Linked DNA regions of Homo sapiens: region 1 is linked to region 2. The links come from fine-mapping of genetic effects on gene expression. A gene starts in region 2. The other region holds a variant in brackets. All regions are shown on one strand. Distances are from middle to middle. Region 1 overlaps LRRC8A (leucine rich repeat containing 8 VRAC subunit A). Region 2 holds the start of LRRC8A (leucine rich repeat containing 8 VRAC subunit A).

Evidence for each region. PIP is the estimated chance that this variant, and not a neighbour inherited with it, causes the effect.
Region 1: its variant is fine-mapped to the expression of LRRC8A in whole blood (TOPMed, PIP 0.96).

What each region holds. Positions count from the first base shown.
Region 1 is chr9:128,904,002-128,912,437 of GRCh38, reverse strand. It overlaps LRRC8A (leucine rich repeat containing 8 VRAC subunit A), which reads right to left. Exons shown (of 4, transcript NM_019594.4): 3 at 3,117-5,281. The coding sequence starts at 5,273. LOC101929291 (a long non-coding RNA gene) reads left to right here. Exons shown (of 4, transcript XR_007061808.1): 3 at 2,200-2,394; 4 at 2,498-3,123. Among named protein-coding and RNA genes, the nearest start is that of PHYHD1, 13 kb to the left of the region's middle. RefSeq lists an enhancer at 1,913-2,696. The variant A/G (reference allele first, on the strand shown) is at 4,941.
Region 2 is chr9:128,875,264-128,891,820 of GRCh38, reverse strand. It overlaps LRRC8A (leucine rich repeat containing 8 VRAC subunit A), which reads right to left and starts at 9,688. Exons shown (of 4, transcript NM_019594.4): 1 at 9,571-9,688; 2 at 5,700-5,806. It overlaps KYAT1-SPOUT1 (KYAT1-SPOUT1 readthrough), which reads left to right and starts at 9,871. Exons shown (of 25, transcript NR_182311.1): 1 at 9,871-9,924. KYAT1 (kynurenine aminotransferase 1) reads left to right here and starts at 9,871. Exons shown (of 13, transcript NM_004059.5): 1 at 9,871-9,924. RefSeq lists enhancers at 5,613-6,375, 9,652-9,801 and a silencer at 9,342-9,621.

The sequences.
Region 1 (8,436 bases), 25 kb before region 2:
CAGAACCTCCTGGACTGTCCCTTTCCCCTCCACCTGGCTTCCTCCTCCTCGTTCTTCAGGGGCCTGTTCCTCTGTGTTCCCAGGGACCTGGTGCTCCAGCAGAGCGCCTACGCACTGTGCTAACTGCCTCGTTACTTGGCCTTCTTCATCCCCATGTCCCCGGCGCCTTGCTCCATAGCTGGATTCTAGAAGTGCTCAAAAAACATCTGCACAAAGGCCAGGCGAAGTGGCTCATGCCTGTAATACCAGCACTTTGGGCGGCCAAGGTGGGAGGCTTTGAGGCCAGGAGTTTAAAGACCAGCCTAGAAAACACAGTGAGACCCTGTCTCTACCAAAAAAACAAACAAACAAAACATAACAATTTGCACACATCAGTAAACGAGTGAACGAATGAATACTGTCTTGTCAAGGCTTTCATTAGCAAGAGTATAAATCTGGAGAAACAGCACGCAAGGGCGTGGGCAGGCCACGCCCACCCCTCCTGGTCACCACTGGCCAAGGTGGCTGAGAAGGAGCCATCAAGCCCGAGTGAGGAGGAAGAGGGGCTCAGGCCTCCCACTCAGAATGAGGGGCCTGCCTGGGGTTGGCCCAAGTGAACTGTTTTCCCTATTAAGGCTCTGGTGTTCCAGGGGGTGGGGACAGGATGTGATTAAGCCATGTGCTAAACAGGGTGTCCAGAGGGTCTCCTTCCTCTGGGACAGCGTGCTTGCCGCCAGCTCCTTTCCTGAGGGGTGACCTCAGCCAGCAGGCATGACACTAACAGGCAAGCTTGGCGGGAGGAGCTGGGGGTGGGGGACAGGATGGGGAGCCAGGCTGGAGGCTTGAACCCTCCCCCAACCAGGAGGACAGCCCCAGCACAGCACCCGGGACAGGGCAGGAATGGCAGGAGCTGTGAGGAAGTCCCAGCTTATCAAGGGCAGCACTGTGCTATGGGGAAGCCACAGGGTCTCCCCCTCCACAGATTAAAGAAGGGCTGGGTTTGTTCTGTGCTTCCCAAATGTGGCTTCTCCCCAGGGGACTCCAGTTTTCCTATTCAGTGGGCCTGTCCCGAAACTACAAGAGAAAACCCTGCCCTGGTCCACTCTCCCACTGTGCTCAAGTCATAATATGGGGTGGCCGGAGATAAGGACTTGTCAAAATCCCTGATACATGTGGGTTGCAGGTTGCTCTGCAGTAAGGGAGCCCTGGGGAAGAGGGGAGGAAGGCTTCCAAGCCAGCAGGCATCTGGAGGGCCTGAAGCATCTAGTCTGAGTGATGCTGGAGAAGGTGTGTCCTGTCCTGGGGCCCAGGAGGACAGACAGGGCATTCCAGGGGCCACCTCCCTCCGTGCCTGAGGATACTATAGACAGACCGGGCATTCCAGGGGCCACCTCCCTCCGTGCCTGAGGATGCTATAGACAGACCCTGTTGGGAGGACTCAGCAGGTTGGTGGAAGGAGGACAGGTGCATCATGCCTGGCACAGGGCGAACACAGAGCAGGTGCCCACGAAACCAACAGGGACTGCACCGTGGGGCTGCTGCATGGCAGATGCACCCAACAGCAACAACCGAACTAAGAAACGCGGGTTGCCACACGGAGGCTGCAGAGGGGAGGGTGCTTAGTGAAAATGCTCTATGAGCTGCACGCTTTTTATAAGCAGGAGTGGTTTTCCTATTTGGCTCACTGCTGCTGGACCACCCTGTAAGTAAGTTCCCCCAAATAAACCCCATGTTTCAATGGCCGGCTCCAGGGCTCTTCATTTTACTTTGAGACTGGGTCTCACTCTATTGCCCAGGCTGAAGTACAGTGGTACAACCATAGCTCACTGCAGTCTTGAACTCCTAGGCTGAAGCGATCCTGCCTCAGCCTCCCAAATAGCTGGGACTACAGGCACATGCCACCATGCCTGGATCATTTCTGTATTTTTGGTAGAGATGGGGTTTCCCTATGTTGCCCAGGCTGGTCTCGAACTCCTGAGCTCAAGTGACCGCCCCACCTTGGCTTCCCTAAGTGCTCGGATTACAGGTTTGACCCACTGGGCCTGGTCAACTCCGAGTCTCTTCTTCAGCCTCCTGAACCTGGTGGCATCCCTAGTGAAGTTCACAGGGGCCCGGCACGACAGCTGCTGCTGTGTCGGGGGCAGAAGGGTGGCTGGCTGGGCTCTCCCTTGTCTCCCAGCGCCTGGCCTCAGGCTTCCTCCACCACATGTCTCACTACAGGAATCTCCACCTGGATGTGAGGCCCAGGAAAACCTGCAGGTCCCCAGGACGGGTGGAAGAGGGACGTTCCCCACAATGGCAGTGGCTTTGTTTCCATTTCGGAGGCCAGACCACAGAGCCACAGGAGTACCCAGCCCTCCATCCACACTGCCTGCCTCCACCAAGGGGCCCTTGGATGGGGGCTTCCCCAGCCAGGTAAGAGACTGGCACCCACAGACCACCAACAGTCTTGAAAGTATGTCGAAGGTGTGGCCTCCCAAACTCCCAGTGACAATGATTTGCACAATTTCCTTTTCAGAAGGGCAGGCAGAAACAAACTAGCCCCATCTAGGCCCAACTCTGCCTCTGACACCACCAAATGCAGTGGAGAAAGGTGTGTGGGAGCTGCAGAGACCATCCAAGGCTTCCCCTCAGCCAGCACTGGCCACCCACACAGTTTCTGTCCTGGGTGGACCCGGATTGGCTCCTTGCCTCCAAGTCCGACTGGGAACAAGCTGAGGAAGACACAAACTCCAGGCTAAGTCTTGACTCCCACCACCCGGCTTTGCGAGAGAACCCCCGGGTTTGGACCTCCTGCCCAAGCACATCCCTGCTGAAGAGGAACCCGGCTCAAGGTCACCTTGGGGGACAGACCTTGCCTGGCCATGCAGTCTCTCCAGGCAGGAGAACTGCAACATTTTGGAGCAAAGACAGGCCCGGGGCCCAGAGATTCGGATTCAGCAGGCCTGGGATGGGGCCCAAGGAGTCTGTCTCTTGAACAGAGCTTCTATCCTGGATGGTTCTGTAAACCCCAGGTGAGGACTCCACACTCAGGGGCATCGACGGTCCCAGGACACTGAGCCTGCCGAGTGCCCCACCACAAGCCCTGGCCAGGCCACCCGCCAGCCCACACGCAGAGCTGTGGCCGGGCCACTCACCCGGTTGGCCGTGATGGCTAGGTTCTGGAGGTTCTGCAGGAGGCCGATGTCGGCAGGGAGGAAGGTCAGGTTGTTGTGGCTGAGGTCCAGGTAGCGCAGCTTGCGGCAGTAGAAGAGCTGGGTGGGGATCTTCTCGATCTTGTTGCGGTTCAGGTAGAGGCGCTCCAGGTTGGTGAGGTTGCCGATCTGGATGGGGATGTAGGCGATGTGGTTGTACCACAGCTTAAGGCAGGTGAGGCGGTGCAGGTGCTGGAAGCTGATGATCTCCTCGATGGTCTTGAGGTTGTTGTCCTTGAGGTCAATCTCCTGCAGGTTGTGGAGGCTGAAGATGGAGTGGGGGATGCGCTCCAGGTCACAGCGGATCAGCTCCAGCTCAGTCAGGTTCGCCATCTTCTTGAGGCTGTTGAGGACGATGAGCTTGGTGCCCTCATTGTTGATGGACAGCTTCTGCAGGTGCACGCCCACATCTGTGACCACCTGTGGCAGCTTGCTTAGGTTGCTCTTGAGCCGCAGCACCTTGAGGCGTTTGAGCTCCCGCAGCCCGTCGATGACGATGTAGCGGTTGTTCTCCGCGCTCAGGTTGCCCGTCAGGTGCAGCTCCTCCAGTGTCTTCAGGCTATAGATCCACAGCGGGATCTCCTTGATGTCGGTGAACTTGATGTGCAGCGCCCGCAGGTTCTCACGCAGGAAGGCCAGCGCGGGCGCTTCAATCTTGGCCGCTGTGTGGTAGAGCCACAGCTCCTTGAGGCCCGTGAGCTGGGCAATGCTGGGCGGGATGGTCACGTCGGGGATCAGCTCCAGCTTGAGGACCTCCAGCTCCACCAGGTCAAACACAGTGTCAGGGATGCCACTGAGCATGAACAGGTGCAGCTCCAGCTTGTCCTGCGCGTTCTTGGTGAGCCGCTGCCGGAGCTTGTCCAGCGTCCACTCGTTGTTGAGGTTCAGCTGCCGCAGCTTGTTCTCACTCACCTCCGACAGGAAGACGGCGAAGCGCTTGGAGTAGAGCGGGTCGTATTGGTCAATGAGGTGCAGCATGAAGGCGAAGTCGTTCTTGACGTCGGGGATGTCGCTGTAGCTGCTCTCCTCACGGATCGACTCAAACGAGTACTTCTTGAGGGAGCGCCGTAGCATCCACCACAGTGTATACATGCAGATGAGGCCGTAGAAGATGACTAGGCTGATGTAGAAGGACGCCAGGATCTTGAAGAGTGTGGCCAGGGGGTGGGCACAGCGGTAGGTGCGGTAGCCCGTCAGGCTCTCAATGTCCACGGTGCAGTCCACGTCGAACTTGATGTTGTGCACGTAGTAGACGGTGTAGCAGATGATGAGGATGAACTTGATCACCTTGATGATGGTCTGCCGCATGTAGAGGCGGTACACAATGTCCCCCTCCTCCACATGGGTCCGGAACTTCTTCACCTTCTCAAACAGCGCCTTGGCTTGCTCCCCCTCCTTCTTGTCCAGCACGCCCGTCTCTGAGCGGTCCACGATACCCTGCTCGATCCGTGACTTGGTCCGCTGCAGCATGGGCACGGTGGCCTCCACGTCCTCACTGACGGTCGATGACTTTTTGTCCATGGACCCATTCATCTTGCTGAAGGCCGGCTTGGGGTCGCTCTCCTCCACCACTGTCTCCGACAGGGCCCTCGTGGTCCAGGGCGAGTCGAAGCACTTCAGCAGGATAGACACAAAGTGCTCCAGCTTCGAGCTGGTGCGCGGGAATTTGAACCAGAAGTTGCTGCAGGCCAGGAAGATGAGCGTGTGCAGAAGCACCAGGTAGGGGAAGTACTTGGCAAACCAGTGCAGTCGGTTCTCATAGCACAC[A/G]GCGTCCACGTAGTTGTACTGGTGCCGGTCCAGGTCATACTTGATGCCTGTGGGGCCCGTGTCAGGGGTCGGCAGAATGGTGGAGTTGGGGTAGGTGGGCTCCGGGCCAGGGGCTGCCCAGCCCCGGAACGAATCATTGCAGGAGTCCTTGGTGACCCACTTACAAGGCAGGCAGATCATCTTGTCTTGGGTGACCTGCAGCGTCCCCCCGAAGACGGCAATCATCAGCATGACGATAGAGATGTAGTCTGTGAACACATCCCACCACGGCTTCAGGATCCGGTATGCTGGCTGCGTGTCCGCAAAGTAGCGGAGCTCTGTCACCGGAATCATGGTTCAACCTAAAAGGGAGCCATAGGAGGGGGGTTAGCACAGGGTGGCCTGGCTTTCCTAGGACCAGGGGTCAGGGGAAGAAGACAATGAAAATTCTTCCATTGTCCAAAATTCCACCTCAAATCTAGCTGGGAGCCAAAGCCTGCCTACTCCACGGGGCAGCCCACTTATCAGCCCTTCTGCAGAAAGCATGTGGCCACTTGGCTGGGAAACCACCCTGGGGGAGGCAGGCAGGCTCCCCATTTAATACACAGGAAGACTGAGCACAGTGAGATTAGACAGATCCCCAGTGCAGCCTCAGGGTTCTCTGCTCCATCCCTTGCATTCCAGTAAGAGCAATCGGGAACTCCTTTCTAAAGTCCACCTATTTAATGAACAGATTGACCAGAGGGACACATTTAAAACTCCCAGTTCACTGGGAACCAGCTGCTGTAAAGCTGCAGCAAAGGGCTGGAGGGATTCCCGCAAAATATGAGGAAAGAAAGCAACATGCAGAGGGGGCACAACATGAACTCACTTCCATAAAACAAAGAGCAAGGTTTAAAAATTCCACGTGGTTCACGTCTGTAATCCCAGCACTTTGGGAGGCCGAGGTGGGTGGATCACCTGAAGTCAGAAGTTCAAGACCAGCCTGGCCAACATGGTGAAACTCGGTCTCTACTAAAAATACAAAAATTAGCCTGGCGTAGTGGCGGGTGCCTGTAATCCCAGCTATTCGGGAGGCTGAGACAGGAGAATCACTTGAACCCGGGAGGTGGAGGTTGCAGTGAGCTGAGATTGTGCCATTGCACTCCAGCCTGGGCGACAAGAGTGAAACTCCAACTCAAAAAAAAAAAAAAAAAAAAAAATTCCACATGGGGGCTGGCATGGTGGCTCACGCCTGTAATCCTAGCCTGTAATCCCAGCATTTTGGGAGGATGAAGTGGGAGGATCGCTTGAGTCCAGGAGGTTGAAGCTGCAGTGAGCTATGACCCCGTCGCTGTACTCCAGCCTGGGTGACAGAGACCCTGCTTCAACAACAAAATTCCACATGTGTGTATAGTTATGTGTGTACAAGATTCTGGGAACACTCGGAAGACCAAAGGTCACATAGTGGGTCTTAATGACAGGCTCCTAGGGGAGCGGCCTCAAGAGAGGGGATTAAGAATAAGGCTCTCCTCCCTCACAAACTGGGTGATCACAGAGAGGCCTTAATGTAAAATCATCTCTGGTTGCGTGTGTATAAAGGAATTAAAAACAGCAGCAACAGCAGGCTCTCCCAGAGAGAGTCTAGTTTGACTACTATGGCGAGAAGCTGGAAATCTGATTTTTCTTTTTTTTTTGAGACGGAGTCTTGCTCTGTCGCCAGGCTGGAGTGCAGTGGCATCATTTCGGCTCACTGCAACCTCTGCCTCCAGGGTTCAAGTGATTCTCCTGCCTCAGCCTCCCGAGTAGCTGGGACTACAGGCCTGCACCACCATGCCCAGGTAATTTTTGTGTTTTTTAGTAGAGACAAGGTTTCACGATGTTGACCAGGATGGTCTCGATCCCTTTACCTCCTGATCTGCCCGTCTCAGCCTCCCAAAGTGCTGGGATTACAGGAGTGAGCCACCGTGCCTGGCTGGGAACCTGATTTTTAACACATAACTTTGGTGACTCTAATGATTGGCCAAGCTTGGGAAACACTGGCTGAGAAGCCACATTAGGAAACCCAGACTGTGCTACACAGGAGGCACGCAGCAAGATCTCTGTGAGAATGCCTCTCTGTGGCCATTCGTGGTCACACGGCCAAGGCTGGTTGCTCTTACAATGAAAGACGTATGGCTGTCACGGAGGGATAAGGTACTAGATGTTCCCTGGAGAACATACGGAAAATTGTAAAAAAGCGTAGCAGCAAAAAAAGAAGAATCCGCTTTACAATCCCCACCAGGGTTACACACTGTTAACTTTTCACTGAATAATAACCTTCCAGTCCTTTCTGTGTATTTTATAATTTTATAATTTTTCTTGTAAGAGATTGGATCTTGCTCTGTTGCCCAAACTAGAGTGCGGTGGCGTGATCATGGCTCACTGCAGCCTCAACCTCCTGGTCAAGCAATCCTCCTACCTTAGCCTCCCCCAGGTAGCTGGGGCTACAGGTGTGTGCCACCATGCCTGGCTAATTTTTTTTTTTTTTTTTTTTTTTTTTGAGACGGAGTCTCGCTCTGTTGCCTAGGCTGGAGTGCAGTGGTGCGATCTTGGCTCACTGCAAGCTCCGCCTCCCAGATTCACGCCATTCTCCTGCCTCAGCCTTCCAAGTAGCTGGGACTACAGGCACCCGCCCACCACACCCGGCTAATTTTTTTTTGTATTTTTAGTAGAGACGGGGTTTCACCGTGTTAGCCAGGATGGTCTCGTTCTCCTGACCTTGTGATCCGCCCGCCTTGGCCTCCCAAAGTACTGGGATTACAGGTGTGAACCACCATACCTGGCCCATGCCCGGCTAATTTTTAAAATTTTTTGTAGAGACAGGATCTCACTATGTTGGCCAAGTTGGTTTCAAACTCCTGGCCTCAAGCAATCCTCTGGCCTTAGCCTCCCAAAGTGTTGGCATTACAGGAGTGAGGCACTGCACCCAGCCCTTTCTGTGTATTAGAATAAATTGTGCTTTTATTTATTTATTTATTTAGAGACAGAGTATTGCTCTGTCACCCAGGCTGGAGTGCAGTGGCACAATCTCAGCTCACCACAGCCTCCGCCTCCTGGGTTCACATGATTCTCCTGCCTCTGCCTCCCAAGCAGCTGGATTACAGGCACACGCTACCACGCCCAGCTAATTTTTGTATTTTTAGTAGAAACGGAATTTCGCCACGTTGGCCAGGCTGGTCTCGAACTCCTGACCTGAGGTGATCCACCTGCCACGGCCTCCCACAGTGCTGGGATTATAGGTGTGAGTCACCATGCCTGGCCAAATTGTGCTTTTACTTTACATTCAATTTTTACTTTACACTGTAACCCAGAACCTAGATTTTTATCTAAACCAAGTTTTAAATGCCTGTGTCAAATGTGTCTGTCTCTCTTAGGAGAGGAACAGGGGTGCCCAGATGATGGGCCACCTTTCTTTGATTACTGATAATGTTAATAACCAGAATAGTAACAAACTTTTTTTTTTTCCCTTTTTGAGACAGTCTCACTCTGTCACCCA
Region 2 (16,557 bases):
AGGCCTCCCGGACCCACCTGGGACCCAGGCCCTTGAAGATACTTCTTGAGACAAGATACTCTTTTCCTTAGGGGGTACATGGAAACCAGGGCTCTACAGGGAACCCCATCAGGCCATACTCAGATGCCTCTGGTCTCACGGGTACTGCTATAAGGAAGCTCTGGAAGGGAGCCTAGCCCTGGGTTTAGGGCCAGAAGGCAGTGTTGGGTCTGGGCCCTGGGGGCAGAAGGGCCTAGAAGGCAGGCCGTTTTATTTTTTTTGAGACAGGATCTTGCGCTGTCGCCGAGGCTGGAGCACAATGGTGCGATCATGACTCACTGCAACTTTGAACTCCTTGGCTCAAGCGATCCTCCAGCCTCAGCCTCCGAGTAGCTGAAACTACAGGCATGTGCCACCACACCTGGCTATTTTTAAAAATTTTTTGTAGAGATAGGTTGTTATGTTGCCCAGGCTGGTCTGGAACTCCTGGGTTCAAGCAGTCCTCCAGTCTCAACCTCTAAGTAGCTGGAACTACATGCACATGCCACCACACCTGGCTAATTTTTTTTTTTAGACGGGATCTCACTCTGTCACCAGGCTAAAGTGCAGTGGCACAATCTCGGCTCACTGCAACCTTCGCCTCCCGGGTTCAAGTGATTCTCCTGCCTCAGCCTCCCAAGTAGCTGGGATTACAGGTGCATGTCACCATACCCGGCTGATTTTTGTATTTTTTAGTAGAAACGGGGTTTCACCATGTTGGCCAGGCTGGTCTTGAACTCCTGACCTCAGGTGATCCACCTGCCTCAGCCTCCCAAAGTGCTGAGCCACTGTGCCTGGACTAATTTTTTTTTTATTTTTGTAGAGACAGGTCACTATGTTGCCCAGGCTGGTCTGGAACTCCTGGGCTCAAGCAATCCTCCACCTCAGCCTCCCAAAGTGCTGGGATTACTGGTGGGAACCGCCACGTCCAGCCAACGTTTGTTGGCTCATATTTGCACATGGAGTCACGGCCACACACGGTTTACAGGTCTTAACCTGTTATGAATACCAGCGCTGCCTTCTTAGACAGGTTATGAAATGTGGCCACCAGTACCCTAGAGAGGCAGCAGACACATCTTCTGCTGAGATCCCAGGGGAGTGGGCACTGGCCAAGCCCTAGGTGAGCCAGGGGGAGGACTGGGGGGTCTGACAGAGGGTGAGCTGCCTGGTACCCGACTCTCTGGGATGGAAGGGGGCTACCCCCAGGGATCCTGACTCATGGAGTCAGCTGGGAGATGCGAGGTGTCCCTTCAGGGCCAGGATTCCCGCCCACCGCCCCCGCTGCTGGTCAGTGCGTTTGTCATGCTGCCCGTCAGAGGGCGCAGGTTTGGCAGTGGCACTCTGACGGCGTCCAGGTGGCACGTGAAAGCTATGGAATTTTACAGCCACTTTTACTCCACTGGAACATTGCTCTAGGCGTGAGGCTTAGATTGCAGCAAGCAATTTAATTTTGAGGTTTTAAGCCCTCAAGAGACGTTTAGATGTAGACAAACTTGCTGCAAGACGCAAGACGCAACAGAAACGCATCTGGAAGACAGCAGGGAACATTTGTGGCTGGGAGTAAAAGCCCTTCTAGAAACCTCAGCCCCACACGTCCTTGAGGAGGGAAGGTTAAGCCCCTCGCCTTCCCAGCACACACACACACACACACACACACACACACACACACACAAAATGAAGCCACTAAAAAACAACTGTCTGGCCAGGTGCGGTGGCTCACACCTGTAATCCCAGCACTTTGGGAGGCCGAGGTGGGTGGATCACCTGAGGTCAGGAGTTCGAGACCAGCCTGACCAACAAGGTGAAACCCCGTCTCTACTAAAAATACAAAAATTAGCCAGGCGTGGTGGTGCACATCTGTAATCCCAGCTACTTGGGAGGCTGAGACAGGAGAATCACTTGAACCCAGGAGGCAGAGGCTGCAATGAGCCAAGATGGCACCATTGCACTCCAGTCTGGGCAACAGAGCAGGATTCCATCTCAAAAAAGTAAAATTAAATTAAAAAAATTGGCCAGGCGCAGTGGCTCACGGCTGTAGTCCTGGAACTTTGGAGAACAAGGTGGGTGGATCACAAGGTCAGGAGATCGAGACCAGCCATGGCCAATATGGTGACACCCCGTCTCTACTAAAAATACAAAAATTAGCTGGGCATGGTGGCGGGCACCTGTAGTCCCAGCTACTCGGGAGGCTGAGGCAGGAGAATAGCTTGAACCTGGGAGGTGGAGGTTGCAGTGAGCAAGATTGTGCCACTGCACTCCAGCCTGGGTGACAGAGCAACACTCCATCTCAAAATAATTAATTAATTAATTAAACAAAAAAAAAAAAACCTGTCCAGTCCCAGTCCTGTGGGGAGCTCAGCCCTGCTTCCACACCAAGGGCATGAGTTCTGCGGTAGACGACTGGGACTAAGGCTGAAAGAATGGCGTCCGGTCAGTGTTTCTCAGCATTGTTTGTAGCCCACCAGCCTCACAACTGCTGGGGAAGCATCTTCAAAGTTCAGATTCCTGGGGCCAACCTTCCAGGGCAGACTCTGCAGGTCTGTGGTGGTGGGCCCAGGGGAACAGCATTTTAGACAAGCTTCCAGGTGACTTTGAAGGCCCCCAAAAGCCTGGGAACCTGAGAAAAGAGGGTAATGGAGGGTGAAGTAGAAAGAGCCCCAGCTGCCAAGCCATACCAACCTGGGTTCAAGTCCTAGCTTTGCCACATGTACACTGTATAACTTTGGGCCAGAGACCTCATCCCTCTGGGGCTTGGTCTGTAAAATGGTAAAGCAACCTCACACGCAAGGCTGTGGCGAAGGTAAGATGGGCAAATGCGTGCAGCATCCCAGCCTGTGGCTCAGCACTGAGACATGGTGCTGAGAATGACCACGGACTATGAAGGTGCTACTGCAGGAAGGAGAAGCCAGAGACGCTGAGCACCATCTGTGGAGGGGCCAGCTCTGCAGCTCTCTCCCAAGCAGTGTATGGGAGAGAAAAGAGACTCCTGGGGAAGAATGGAGGAAGTGACGTGGGGGAGGGAAAGCGACAGGACAGTGAGCCTGAAAAACACAGGTGAGATGTCAGGAGCTCTGGCACAGACCTCACTCCCAGCGCGATCCTGCCAGACGCTCTCGCAGCCCCGCAAAACGAGGCTGCCACGCCTGTATGCTCTCCTTGCCCAAACCCTTCCTGAGGTCAGCTATACCCCAAAAGAGAGCATCTTTGGACCCAGGTGGCAGGGTGGGCCCTCCTCCTGCTCCTCACCTGCCCACTCTCAGAACTAAAACTTGAAAGGAGCATGCCAAAAGGACCACAACCAACACTTCCTCCAGATACAGCAAGGGTAAACTGAGTCAGGGTCTGCCTGTTCCTTCCTATCCCCAGGAAGGGCTGGGCTCAGGAGAACAATGGCTCAGACTCAATTTGTCTCAGCTTGATTCATGTGTGTCCCCTGAACCCAGGTGGTGGGTGGAGGCCAAAACCCCTCAGGCCGGCCCATGCGGTTCATTCCACGCCATCCTTGGCAAAAAGGAGGAATTATGATCTGACAAGCAGGACCTGCTGCTTCCTGCTCAGCGCTGCCCAGCATGAAAGACTACAGCTCAGGCCTCCCCTCTCTCCAGGGGACAGAGTTCCTCAAAACCAACAGGAAACTCCTATGGGGCAGAGCCAGGAGTTGGCTGACCTTATCCCATAAACAGGAGAGTCGACACAATCACACACCAGGCACTTCCGACCTCCCTCTGCTGCTGTAAATGCCCAAACAGCTCAAAACTCCCAGCATGTGAGGGGGAGGGGCCAGGGGGGCTCAAGGGTGTGCATTCTGCCAGGACCACACACAGCTCTATCTACCTCTTGCATGGGAAAGAGGTCCAGGGGAGCCGGGCGCGGTGGCTCATGCCTATAATCCCAGCACTTTGGGAGGCCAAGGCGGCGGATCACAAGGTCAGGAGATCAAGACCATCCTGGCTAACATGGTGAAACCCCGTCTCTACTAAAAATACAAAAAAAATTAGCCGGGCGTGGTGGCGGGCGCCTGTAGTCCCAGCTACTCGGGAGGCTGAGGCAGGAGAATGGAGTGAACCCGGGAGGCAGAGCTTGCAGTGAGCTGAGATTGTGCCACTGCACTCCAGCCTGGGTGACAAAGACTCCATCTCAAAAAAAAAAGAGGTCCGGGGGATATCATTATATGAAACAAAAGCAAACTGTGAATCAGCAACTCAAACATGACCAGATTTTTATAAAAATAAGCAAATGGTAACAATAGATGTGGAAGAATATACCCCTTCCCATTCACACCTCTGAAGATGAGAATCAGCAGAGACTCATTTCCTAGATGACATTAAAGATCCAAACAGGTCTGGCATGGTGGCTCACACCCATAATCCCAGCACTTTAGGAGGCCAAGGCAGGAGCATCTCTTGAACCCAGGAGTTCGAGACCAGCCTGGGCAATGTAGAGAGGCTCTATCTCCATAATAAATAAATAAATAAAATTAGCTGGGCACAGTAGTGCACACCTGCAGTCCCAGCTAGTTGGGAGGCTGAGGCAGGAGGATCGCTGGAGCCTTGGAGATCGAGGCTGCAGTGAGTCATGATGGTGCCACTGCACTCCAGCCTGGGCAACAGAGTGAGACCCTGTCCCCCAAAAATAGCCAAACAGTATAAAACCATATAATGAATATACAACTATGTTGGTAATTACAAAAAAAAAAAATTACTATTTCTTTTAAAATCCAGGCTGGGAGACTCAGGCCTTCCTTCACACAAAAAACTGAGGTGAGAGATAAAGGCAGGAAGGCCTCAGGGCAGACAACAGAAGACCCTGGCCCAGGATTCCAGGGTCTGGATTCAAGCCGCATGTCCTTGCCTTCTTTACAGATGAGTCTGGGCAAGCTGCTTCCTCACTCTGATTCTCAGTTTCCACATCTGTAAACTGGAGATAATGGCCACTGCCTAAGCATCCTCAAATGGTCAAATGAGATCACCGACCTGAGTATGTCTGGCAAATTACACAGCCGTCTATACACACACCAGCTATGACTCGGGACCACCTTCTAGGACATGCACTCTGCCAACTGCCTGCTCTATGTCAACATATTTAATCCTCCAAATGTTCTAAAGGGACTCTCCTGCCTCTGGGAACTGTTTTCCAAAGCACAGGCCAAGGAATCCCAGTCCCCAAAGATGTCTACACGATCAAATAAGTGTGGGGAAACACGAGTCGCTAGCTCCCTTATCGTGATCAGCTCAATCCTGATGACGGCTCTGATTCAAGACTCTGATAAGTCCTGCAGCAAGGATAACAAGAAGTCTTTGTTTCCTGGAATTATCAAACCACTGTGACCGAAGAAACTGGTGTCTCATGGAACACACTTGGGAAACGTGGTCCACGCTTTTTGGGAAATGTGGTCATGAGGCTGCATTAGCAAGACCCAGACTGATAAGATCTGGGGTGAAGGAGAAAAAACAGAGGTTTGCAATGAAACAACTCAGCATTCAATGAGTGCGGCAAGCACACATTACTCAGCGGGAGAAGGAGGAAGAGAGTAATTCTGCTGTCTGCCACTCTACCCTGGACCTACAGCAAGAAAAGCAAAGGACTGTGGGGATGGAGATGCTACCCTTTGCTCCCCAGGCTGGGAAGGGCACTTGACTGGAGCTGGAGCTGGCTGAGAAGGAGAGGGGCCCAGTCCTTACCCCAAGGATGGCTCTGCTATCTGCGCGTCGGCTGTCGGTGCTGAGGCTGGCCCGCGTCTGCCTGTGCAGGATCCTGGCATTCCTTTTGCTCCATGGACGCTGCCTCCCTACAAGGAAGCGAGAGCTGCCGTCAGCAGGCACATGTGTGACTGTCGCAGTTACCTGCCACACCGCCAGCACTTCCTGAGAGCCTGCTTGGTAGCAGGCCCTTGGCTGGGCTCTGGGGTGACAAAAGAGGTTTTTTTTGTATAGTGGTGCAATCTCGGTTCACTGCAACCTCCGCCTCCCGCATTCAAGTGATTCTCCTGCCTCAGCCTCTCGAGTAGATGGGATTTCAGGTGCGCACCACCAAGCCTGGCTAATTTTTTGTATTTTTAGTAGAGACAGCGTTTCCCCATGTTAGCCAGGCTGCTCTCAAACTCCTAACCTCCAGGGATCTGCCCGCCTCGGCCTCCCAAAGTATTGGGATTACAGGCATGAGCCACCGCGCCTGGCAGACAAAAGAGGTTCTGACAGAGCACCTCCCTCCAGAACCTGGTCTACTGAGGAGGTGCCAAGTCAGTAGCGACGGTCTGAGAGCTCAGAGCTCTGCTGCGGGGGAGCCAGGAGAAGCACTAGACCCAGACTAGTGGGGTCAGGGAAGGCTTTCTGGAGGAGGAGTTGTCTGAGTTGACTCCTAAGAGTAGGAGCTGGAAAAAGAGCATTCCAGGCAGGAGGAACAGCACATGTTTACCTGGAGGAGAGAGTACATGGCATCTGGAGAAGGCTTGCGGGCTCGGCATGGCGAGATCCAGAGCCAGAGAGGGGAAGTGGCAAGAGATGAGCCACAGTGGGGTGGCTGGGTCAGGCAGAGACCAGCCAGTGCCCAGACTCCAACTTAAACACCAAATCCACCCATCATCTCCGACAGTCAACCAGCCTCTGGTGAGCATCTACTCCATATGCGCCAGACACTGTGCAGAACTGTGCATGGGAGTGGCAGGGTAGGGAAAGCTGTGATCACTACGACACGGGTTTCGGGGAGCCAGGAGCTGGGAGAGTGGCCCAGCCACCAGAGAGAGCCAAAGGATCAGCAGGAGTTACCCAGGAAGGAGGAGGGCGGGGGTAGACAAAGACACCTGGACTGATCTAGGAGGGATGGCTGTTTTTCCATCATTTCTACCACTGGGTATTTACTATATTGACTAAGTTCCAGGCCCTGTGCTGGGAGGGCAGACATGGAAGATGGTCTCCGCCGTCATGGGAGGTAGGTCAATAACCCTGCAATTCCATACGGGGTGGTGGTGACTAGGCAGTAAAGTACCTACAGCTATATAGGCACGGAGGCCATCCAAGCCAACCTCTACCTCACTCTACCCTCCTTGTCAAGGATGGGGCACCCACTGAGGCTGGGTGGTCCAATCACCTGCCCATGGCAGAGCCAGGTCCAGAACTTGGGCCCCTGGACTCCCTGTCACTAATTATTCTAGTCCCTCCTCTTCCAGAAAGCATACCCTGACCACCCCCTACATAACCACCCAGAGCTAATTCCTTCTTCCTCTGGGCTGCCTCTGTAATATTTCTATTAATATGGTGGCCACAGTATATCAGAACTTATGTGTCTTCTGGTTTGCCTGTCCTCCCAGACTGCAGCTCTCAGGAGGCCAGGGATGTTTTCCCAGCCATCCCAGGCCCAAGACAGGCACTTTCTAAAGAATGGCTGAATGAATGAATGAATGAATGAATGAGTCAAGGCATGGAGAGACACTGTGCTGGGCTCTAAGAGCCCCACATCCATCCCACCTGAATCTCCAAGAGGTCTTGGCCCATCAGTGTGTGCCTCAGTTTCTCCATGTGAAAACCTGGAATCAGCTCTACTCTAAGACGAGGCAGTCAGGAACCAGGCTGATTTCCCTCCAACTCCTACAGGCAAGGTCCAGGCCAAGCCAGGCAGCAACCCAGGGTCCGGCCACTTCCCTGAGTTCTGACCCACGGCAGTGATCCCCAGGATTCCCTACAGTCCAGAAAGGTCATTCAAGAGTTTGCAAAGGAAACGGCTTCCTGGTGGGTGTGCCTAAGGGATGGAGAACCACCACATCTAGTCAAGTTCTGGGGGGAAGTCATGAACATTTCCTGTGCCCCCGCTCTGTTTTTTTTTTTGTTTTTTTGAGATGGAATTTTGCTCTTCTTGCCCAAGCTGGAGTGCAATGGCGCGATCTTGGCTCACTGCAACCTCTGCCTGCTGGGTTCAAGCAATTCTCCTGCCTCAGCCTCCCGAATAGCTGGGATTACGGGTGCGCAGCCCCATGCCTGGCTAATTTTTTGTATTTTTAGTAGAGACAAGGTTTCACTATGTTGGCCAGGCTGGTCTCGAACTCCTGACCTCGTGATCTGCCCGCTTCAGCCTCCCAACGTGCTGGGATTACAGGCGTGAGCCACCACGCCCGGCCCTGCACCCCCTGCTCTGTACCCTATGGTCCCTAGAACGCAGAGGGCATCAGACCCCATGCCAAAGCCCTGAGACCAGGAAAACAAGGAAGCAGAGACCAGCCACCCAGTCACTCATCCCTGGCATGTCCACAACAGCCTCCTCCAGCACAGGTCATCTGTCCTTGCCTCACTTCATGAGCCAGAGGAAGACTTGACCTTCATGGAAGCAACACCAGTGAGACTGAGCAATCAGCACTGCCCAGTCTCTCTGAACAAACTCCCACTCCCACATCCCCTCCACAGGAAGTATCAGCAACAGCCGATCTCCTCCCGCTTCTTACAGCCTGTCTGTCTGCCAGGTTGTCTGCTCCAAAGGGCAGAATACAGTTTGGCAGGGGTTAAGAGTACTACTAACAGAAGAGGTGGAAGAGGTCCTTGGGAACTTCGGGCTCCCCCAGTTCCCTTCCTCTTACCAGGTGCTCTCCCTCCACACCTCATTCTCAAAAGGCTTCCTGAGGTAGGGCAGGGGAAGAGGAGTCAGTGGAAGTGTGGCTCACCCAGGAACCGCCCACCCTTCCAGCCAAGTCTCCATCAGGAGGCGGCTACCAGACAACCCCCGACCCATCCCTCCTTCCCAAAAAAGGCAACAATCGCAACAGCTGAGAACCGGCAGACCTCGGTTCACCCCGGTCCAGATCAAGGGGAAGAAGCAGTCAGCGAAAGCAGCAGAATCATCATGAACTCCATGACCCCAGCTATGCCCCTTCAGCCTGGGAGCTCAGTTTGCTGGGTATCCAGCTCACCTAGGGCTGCACCAGGCCTGGACCTCACTGGATCTCGCCTCGCCCTCGGGCCCACCTGAATGCACAGGACTGGGACAGGGTCTGGGTTCTTAGATTCCGGACCGGTCTTCCCAAATATCCCATCCCAGAAAGGCCCCAAGAGCCTAGCCGGGGATCCTGCCCCCAAGTCAGGGCACTGCCCCCATCGGAACGATAGGAAGGAGGGGTGCAAGGGAAGAGAAGGGGACCAGGAACTCAGGAGAAGACAGCTAAGGAAATCTTTGAAAAAGAAATGGCAAGGAGAGAGCCCAGAGGTGGAACCTCTAGGAACGGGAGAGTGTGTGTGGAGGGGTGAGGATCTGGGGGGACCCAGGGGATGACAAGGGGACATGGGGGAGCCGAGGCGGAAACTCCTGGTTTCTGAAGCACAAGGAGGCACAGGGGTGCCTGGGAGGGGGCTCGCGCGCCGCGGAGCCGGCGAGAAGGTGGTGCCCCGGAGACTCCGGGCACTGGGGAGCCCAGAGGTAGGCCGAACACCGCGGGAGGTCCCCAGGGGGCCGGCCCGGAGACAGAGCCCCAGATGCCCCGGGCGCCCCGGGCCGGGCAGCTGGCCGAGGGCGTGTGTAAGTGGGTTTCGAGAGGTGACAGCTCGCGCCCCTTTCCCCACCCCGTCCACTCACCTGGGCTCGCCGCGCCCGGCCGCCCGGCAGGCAGCCCCAGGCCCCGGCCGCTCCGTCCCGCCGCCGGCCGCAGCGCTGCTCCGGCGCCTCCTTTTGTTTGTCCCTCACTGCACCACTCAGCCTCCTCCGCCCCGGAAGTGACGTCACCGCCGGGCGCGAACGCGGCGGCCAGGGCGTCGCCATCTTTATGAGGAGAATTCTAGCGGCGCTTTCTCCCGCTCTCGCCTCCGCGCTAGCGCCCTGCTGCTTCGGGGCGGAAGTAGCGGAGCCGGGCTCGGCCCCCTTAAAGGGACAGGGACTGCTGCAACCTACGGGGTGTACTTGGGAACGAGGGGTGAAGCGGCCCAGGTGAGGGTGAGTAGCTGTGTCGGAGCGCCACTTCCCCAAGGTCAGGTGCCGAGGCTGGGAGGGTCGGCTAACGGTTCCGAGCTTGGTTGTGCTAGAGTGCTTAATGAGTTTGATGCTACTAAGTATAACGGAGTGGCTGCACAGAATGATTGAGCCGCCCGCGGGAATCAACTGCGCGTGCTGCTCGCTGATTCTCGCTCGGACACTGGGGCTGGTCCTGTCTGCACCCAAATCCCCCTCCCACGACCGCGCCGGTGGAGATGATACCCGAGACAACAGAATTCTGGACAGATCTGGGGTTGGAATTGGGTCCCCAGACTCCAACTCTGCAGCTCCATAAATCCCGCTGGGTCCTCGCAAATTCCCTGGCTGATAACAGTACCGGCAACCAAATTAAAAAATAATCCATACAGTGGAATACTGTGCAGCCATTAAGACGAACAATGTTTAATATGCACTAATGTAGGGTGACTTCTAAGATACCTTAGGTTAAAAAAGGAAACAACAGTAAAAACAGCGTTGGGCCGGTTGCGGTGGCTCACGTCTGTAATCCCAGCACTTTGGGAGGCCGAGGCGGGCGGATCACGAGGTCAGGAGATCGAGACCATCCTGGCTAACTTGGTGAAACCTCATCTCTACTAAAAATACAAAAAAATCAGCCGGGCGTGGTGGTGGGCGCCTGTAGTCCCAGCTACTCTGGAGGCTGAGGCAGGAGAATGGCATGAACTCGGGAGGTGGAGCTTGCAGTGAGCCGAGATCGCGCCGCTGCACTCCAGCCTGGGCGACAGAGCGAGACTCCGTCTAAAAAAAGAAAAAACAGCGTTGATGGGTGCTATCCATCTTTGCGTAGAAGGACGCCTGAGGGTGGGCGTATCTGCGGGTGTGCGCGCCAGCTGTCTGATAAGATGCACAAGAAGTTGTTAATTGCGGTTGTCTCCGACAGAATTGGGGTCTTGGGTACCTGGGCCAGGGCGAGAAATTTACTACCATGTGCACAGATAGATAATTAAAAATAAGATGATGAAGATAGTCGTGGCTCCCATCCATCACGTGTTAAGCCAATGCCTAGTTTCACTTCTGTTGGGAGGTCTTATTTTTCCCTTTTAATAGAAGAGAAAAGAACCTTAGAGAGGTTAGGAAACTTAGCAATATCATAGCCAGGGCCGGGCGCGGTGGTTCACACCTGTAATCCCAGCACTTTGGGAGGCTGAGGCGGGCGGATCACGAGGTCAGTAGATCGAGACCATCCTGGCTAACACGGTGAAACCCCGTCTCTACTAAAAATACAAAAAAATTAGCCGGGTGTGGTGGCGAGCGCCTGTGGTCCCAGCTACTCGGGAGGCTGAGGCAGGAGAATGGCATGAACCTGGGAGGCAGAGCTTGCAGTGAGCTGAGATTGGGCCACTGCACTTCAGCCTGGGCAACAGAGCAAGACTCCGTCTAAAAAAAAAAAAAAATCATAGCCAGGAAGTGGAGAAGCTGGAATTTGAACCCTGGGAGATTTACACTAATGCCCATGATCTAGCTTATCCCTCGCCACTGAGATGCTTTTTCTGTTGTCAGTCACGCAACACCCGTCTTGGGGCCTGGCACACAACAGGCATCCAGTAACTATTTATTGACATGATGTGTGGTGTGAAAAGCAAACGTTGAAGGTCAGAGCCCAGGCTTAAAGTCCAGGGCTTGGGCACCTCTTTCCAACCTGTGGACTGTGGGCCTGCCAGGTACTCCGTGGGCCTCCATGTCCCCGCCTGTAAAATGAACAACCAGAACCACAGTTGTAGACAGTGAATGTTCCCACGTATTATACTTTGTATTTTACACGCAGATAAGTCTCATTTTACAGATAAGTGAGGCACAGAGAGATTAAGAAAGTTGCCAGAAGGGGGTTCCTACAGGTCTCCCTCCCTCCCTAGGAAGGCTGCTGGGCTCCCAGGCCTCTCCCTTAGCTTCCCAGGATCATCTGTGCTAATGCCTGGGGGACCTACTCTGTGCTGGGTGAGCTGCCAGAGGCTGAGGATCTGGTGGAGAACAGGTCAAGCACATAGTTCCTGTCCTTGGAGTTGAGCGCCCCCGTGCTGAGTACTTTGAGGGCGGAAGCCCAGGTCTTGGGACCACCTGGGAGGGGACATGTGGCTTAGCCTGGGTGGAGTCAGAAGGGGCTTCTCCAAGGAAGGGACTTTCAATGTGACTGGAAACTAGGATGTCCAGAAGGAGAAATGATGAGGCTGGAGACTCAAGGAGAGATGGGCTCCTACCCTGGACTTGGCCTTGGTGTCCACTAAGAAACTGAGGGTGACCAACAGGATTGGAGAATATACAAGTTAGACCCATTCAGTCTGGCTTCAGCAGGAATCTTTCCTCCCGGAGAATGCCTCCATTAGGTGCCAACCACCAGAACGCCACACTAACCTCTCCAAGCTCCAAAGAGTAGGGCGCCTGATTTTATAATCCAGGTGGGGGCGATAAAGGAATGCAGGAGCCTTCACAGCCATGAGGCAGTCACTGTAACTCCTGCCAGAACAGACCTGGGGCCACATCCCACTCCTGGATGGCACTGCCAGTTCCCTGCATAATTCCTTTTTTTTTTTTTGAGACGGAGTCTCACTCTGTCGCCCAGGCTGGAGTGCAGTGGTGCAATCTCGGCTCACTGCAAGCTCCACCTCCCGGGTTCACTCCATTCTCCTGCCTCAGCCTCCCAAGTAGCTGGGACTACAGGCACCCGCCACCACGCCTGGCTAATTTTTTGTATTTTTAGTAGAGACGGGGTTTCACCGTGTTAGCCAGGATGGTCTCTATCTCCTGACCTTGTGATCCGCCCACCTCGGCCTCCCAAAGTGCTGGGATTACAGGCGTGAGCCACCGCGCCCGGCCTCCCGGCATAATTTTTAAAATGCTCATCCTATGCCCTCATTCCCCAGCTTGCAGCTGGGGGCCTCCTGGTGCTTTTCTGGGACTTCGAGTAAGTCATTTCCCCTCTCTAAGCCTCAGTTTCCCCACCTGTAAAGCTGATGCCACCTCCTCCAAGGCTCCCGCGAGGCTATCTGCCTATCTGTTGTGTGTTCCTTTAATGTATGGGAGTGAGATTGTGGTTTTTGAATCTGGGTCCTGTGCCAGGAGGAATAAGTGGTGAGATACCTACTGTTTGTGTCACTCAGGTCTTCCACCAACCCCTCCAGCCTGTAAACCTGCCGTCTGGACTCCAGAAGTCATTTCTCTCTCCTCTGCCAATTCCTAAGCCCAGGGGGACTGTGTCTGAGTGACGCAATTGTTAGATCTCCTCAGACAGGCTGTTCTCTCCAGGAAAACATTGGCTCAACAAATTGTCACCAAACATTTGTCTTCAGGGAATTCTGTTTTTTTTCTATCAAAAAAAATTTGGATTCATTATATAATAAGAGATTTTTCATTTTGCTTGGTTACTAATTTTATGGAAAGCCTGGTAGGTTTAAATGTTAATAGCTTGTTGACTGGGTGTGGTGGTTCATGCCTATAATCCCAGTAATTTGGAAGGCTGAGGTGGGACTATCGCTTGAGCTCAGGAGTTCGAGACCAACCTGGGCAACGTGGTAAAACCCCATCTCTATCAAAAATACAAAAATTAGCTGGGTGTGGTGGCACGTGCCTGTGGTCCCAGCTACTCTGGAGGCTGAGGTACAAGAATCGCTTGAAACTGGGAGGCAGAGGTTGCAGTGAGCCGAGATTGTGCCACTGCACTCCAGCCTGGGCGATAGAGCAAGACTGTCTCAAAAAAAAAAAAAAGTTAATAGCTTGTTGTCATTGACAAGTGGCTGTGAGCCAGGACCCACAGTATATTCTCTGTGGATTCTTGTCACCTTCATTGTACAGATGAGGAAGCTGAGCCCCCAAGAGGCTGCGGCCTGGCATGACCAAGGTCCCATAGCTAGTTTATGGTGGAGCTGGGACTATTTGATCCAAGTCCAAGGTTTGGTCTTCTGTGGTTATTCATGCACTAGACTGGTCTTCCTGGGCATGGTATCCCCAGTTCTGTACCCTTTCTCTAGAGGTGCCACGATGTGTGTTGTCTCAGTAACTGGGAGTCTCCTGGCATTTTAAGCCCAGGGATGCTAAACATCCTTCAAGGCTCCAGATAGCTCTCCCCAGTGAAGAACTGACTCATCTCAAATTCTAAGTGTGCCCCTATTGAGAAGCTCCAAAACCGAATGTCATAATTGACTTGAGTGATGTGACGTGGGGCCACCCTGGGAAGGCATGGTCACCTCGCCTGCCCTTGTAAGCAGCCATGCAAGGTGAAGTTGGACAAGACATGGCTCCTGTCCCCAAGGGGCTGGTGGTCTCCTGTCAGCCCTAGCACCCGCCTGAGAGGAGATTTCACGGGACAGAATTTGGACTTTGGAAATAGGCAAACCAGGGTTTGAATCACAGCTGGAGCTCTCTAGGCTGAGTGAGTTTTCCTTGTTCTCCTTTTGAGCAAAATAGAGTAAATAATACCATCCTAATCAGCTGTGATGAGGATTAGAGAATTTAGCATGGGGTTGGGGGAGAGGGTCAGGCACAGGTAGGTGCTTTCTGAGTTCAGCAAAGGGCCTGGGTGGACACAGAAGCTTCAGAGAGGAGGTACAGGTGGGGCTAGGCCCTGCTAGGGATTTTGGATTGGAGGGTATGCCAGGCAGGGGAAACAGCTTGAGTGAAGATGGGCAACATTTATTCAAAAGCAAAGGGTGGCTGGGCACAGTGGTTCACACCTGTAATTCCAGCAATTTGGGAGGTCAAGGCAGGCAGATCACCAGAGGCCAGAAGTTCAAGACCAGCCTGGCCAACATGGTGAAACCCCATCTCTACAAAAATACAAAAATTAGCCGAGCATGATGGTGGGTGCCTGTAATCCCAGCTACTCGGGAGGCTGAGGTGGGAGAATCACTTGAACCCGGGAGGCAGAGGTTGCAGTGAGCCGAGATCGTGCCATTACACTCCAGCCTGGGTGAAAGAGTGAGACTCCATCTCAAAAAAATAAAAATAAAAATAAATTAGCTGGGCGTGGTGGCGTGCACCTGTAATCCCGGCTACTTGGGAGGCTGAGGCAGGAGAATCACTTGAACCCGGCAGGTGGGGGTTGCAGTGAGCCAAGATTGTGCCACTGCACTCCAGCCTGGGTGACAGAGTGAAGAGAGAGGCTCTATCTCAAGAAAAAAAAAAAAAAAAGGCCGGGTGCCGTGGCTCATGCCTGTAATCTCAGCACTTTGGGAGGCCGAGGCAGGCGGATCACGAGGTCAGGAGATTGAGACCATCCTGGCTAACATGGTGAAACCCTGTCTCTACTAAAAATACAAAAAAAATTAGCAGGGCGTGGTGGCGGGCGCCTGTAGTCCCAGCTACTCGGGAGGCTGAGGCAGGAGAGTGGCGTGAACCCGGGAGGTGGAGCTTCCAGTTAGCTGAGATCACGCCACTGCACTCCAGCCTGGGCGACAGAGCCAGACTCTGTCTCAAAAACAGAAAAAAAAAAAAAAAAAAGAACAAAGGATGACTGGGTGTGGTGTCTCATGCCTATAATCCAAGCTGTAATCCCAGGACTTTAGGAGGCCAAGACCAGAGGATCACTTGAGCCCAGGAGTTCAAGACCAGCCTGGGTAACATAGGGAGACCCTGTCTCTATTTTTTTTTTTTTTTAAAAGCAAAGAATTTGAGCTGGGGGTTGGGGCATGCACTTATAGTCCCAGATACTCAGGCGGCTGAGGCAGGAGGATCACTTGAGCTCAGGAGTTCAAGGCTCCTAGGTGACAAAGCGAGACCCTATCTCTAAAATAAAAAAAGAGTAAAGGGAGGGAAGGTGGAGGCTGCCAAGCCTGGATTCCAGCCGGCTCCAAACGCCAGGCTGAGGAGGCTTTGGACTTTGTCCAGTGTCACCACAGGCTTCTGGGCAGAGCTGGTCCAATGGGGGTTGGGGGACAGTGGCATAGCTGACATCAGCCCCTGGGTTATTGACATCAGCCCCTGGAATGCATCAGTGATGCATTCCACGGGCCCAGGGGTCATCCACTGCCTTCGGGTCAAGCAAATGGCCAGTAGCTGCCCAGGCTGATAGAGGTGTGTGTTGGAGGGGGGCACAGGCCACTGGCCCTCGGCCCCTGGCCTGGCAGCAGGGAGGCCTCAGATCTTAGATGCCTGAGAGCTACCCCAGAAGGGTCCTCGGCACAGCTATGGTCCCCATGCCTAGTGGTGCTGGGCCTCCTCGGTGCTGCCAGATCACCTGAGCTGCCTCCATTGCAGCAGTTATCCCACACATTTTTTTTTTTTTTTGAAGCGGAGTCTTGCTCTGTCACCTGGACAGCTGTCAGGCTGGAGTGCAGTGGCTCAATCTTGGCTCACTTCAACCTCTGCCTCTCAGGTTCAAGTGATTCTCCTGCCTCAGCCTCCCGAGTAGCTGGGACTACAGGTGCCCACCACCACACCCGGCTAATTTTTGTATTTTTGTAGAGACGCGGTTTCACCATGTTGGCCAGGCTGGTCTCGAACTCCTGACCTCAAGTGATCTGTCTGCCTCGGCCTCCCAAAGTGCTGGGATTACAGGCGTGAGCCACCACGCCAGTGAGCCAAGGTCACACAGCTGCACTCCGGCCTGGGCGACACAGCAGGACTCCATCTCAAAAACAAAAACCA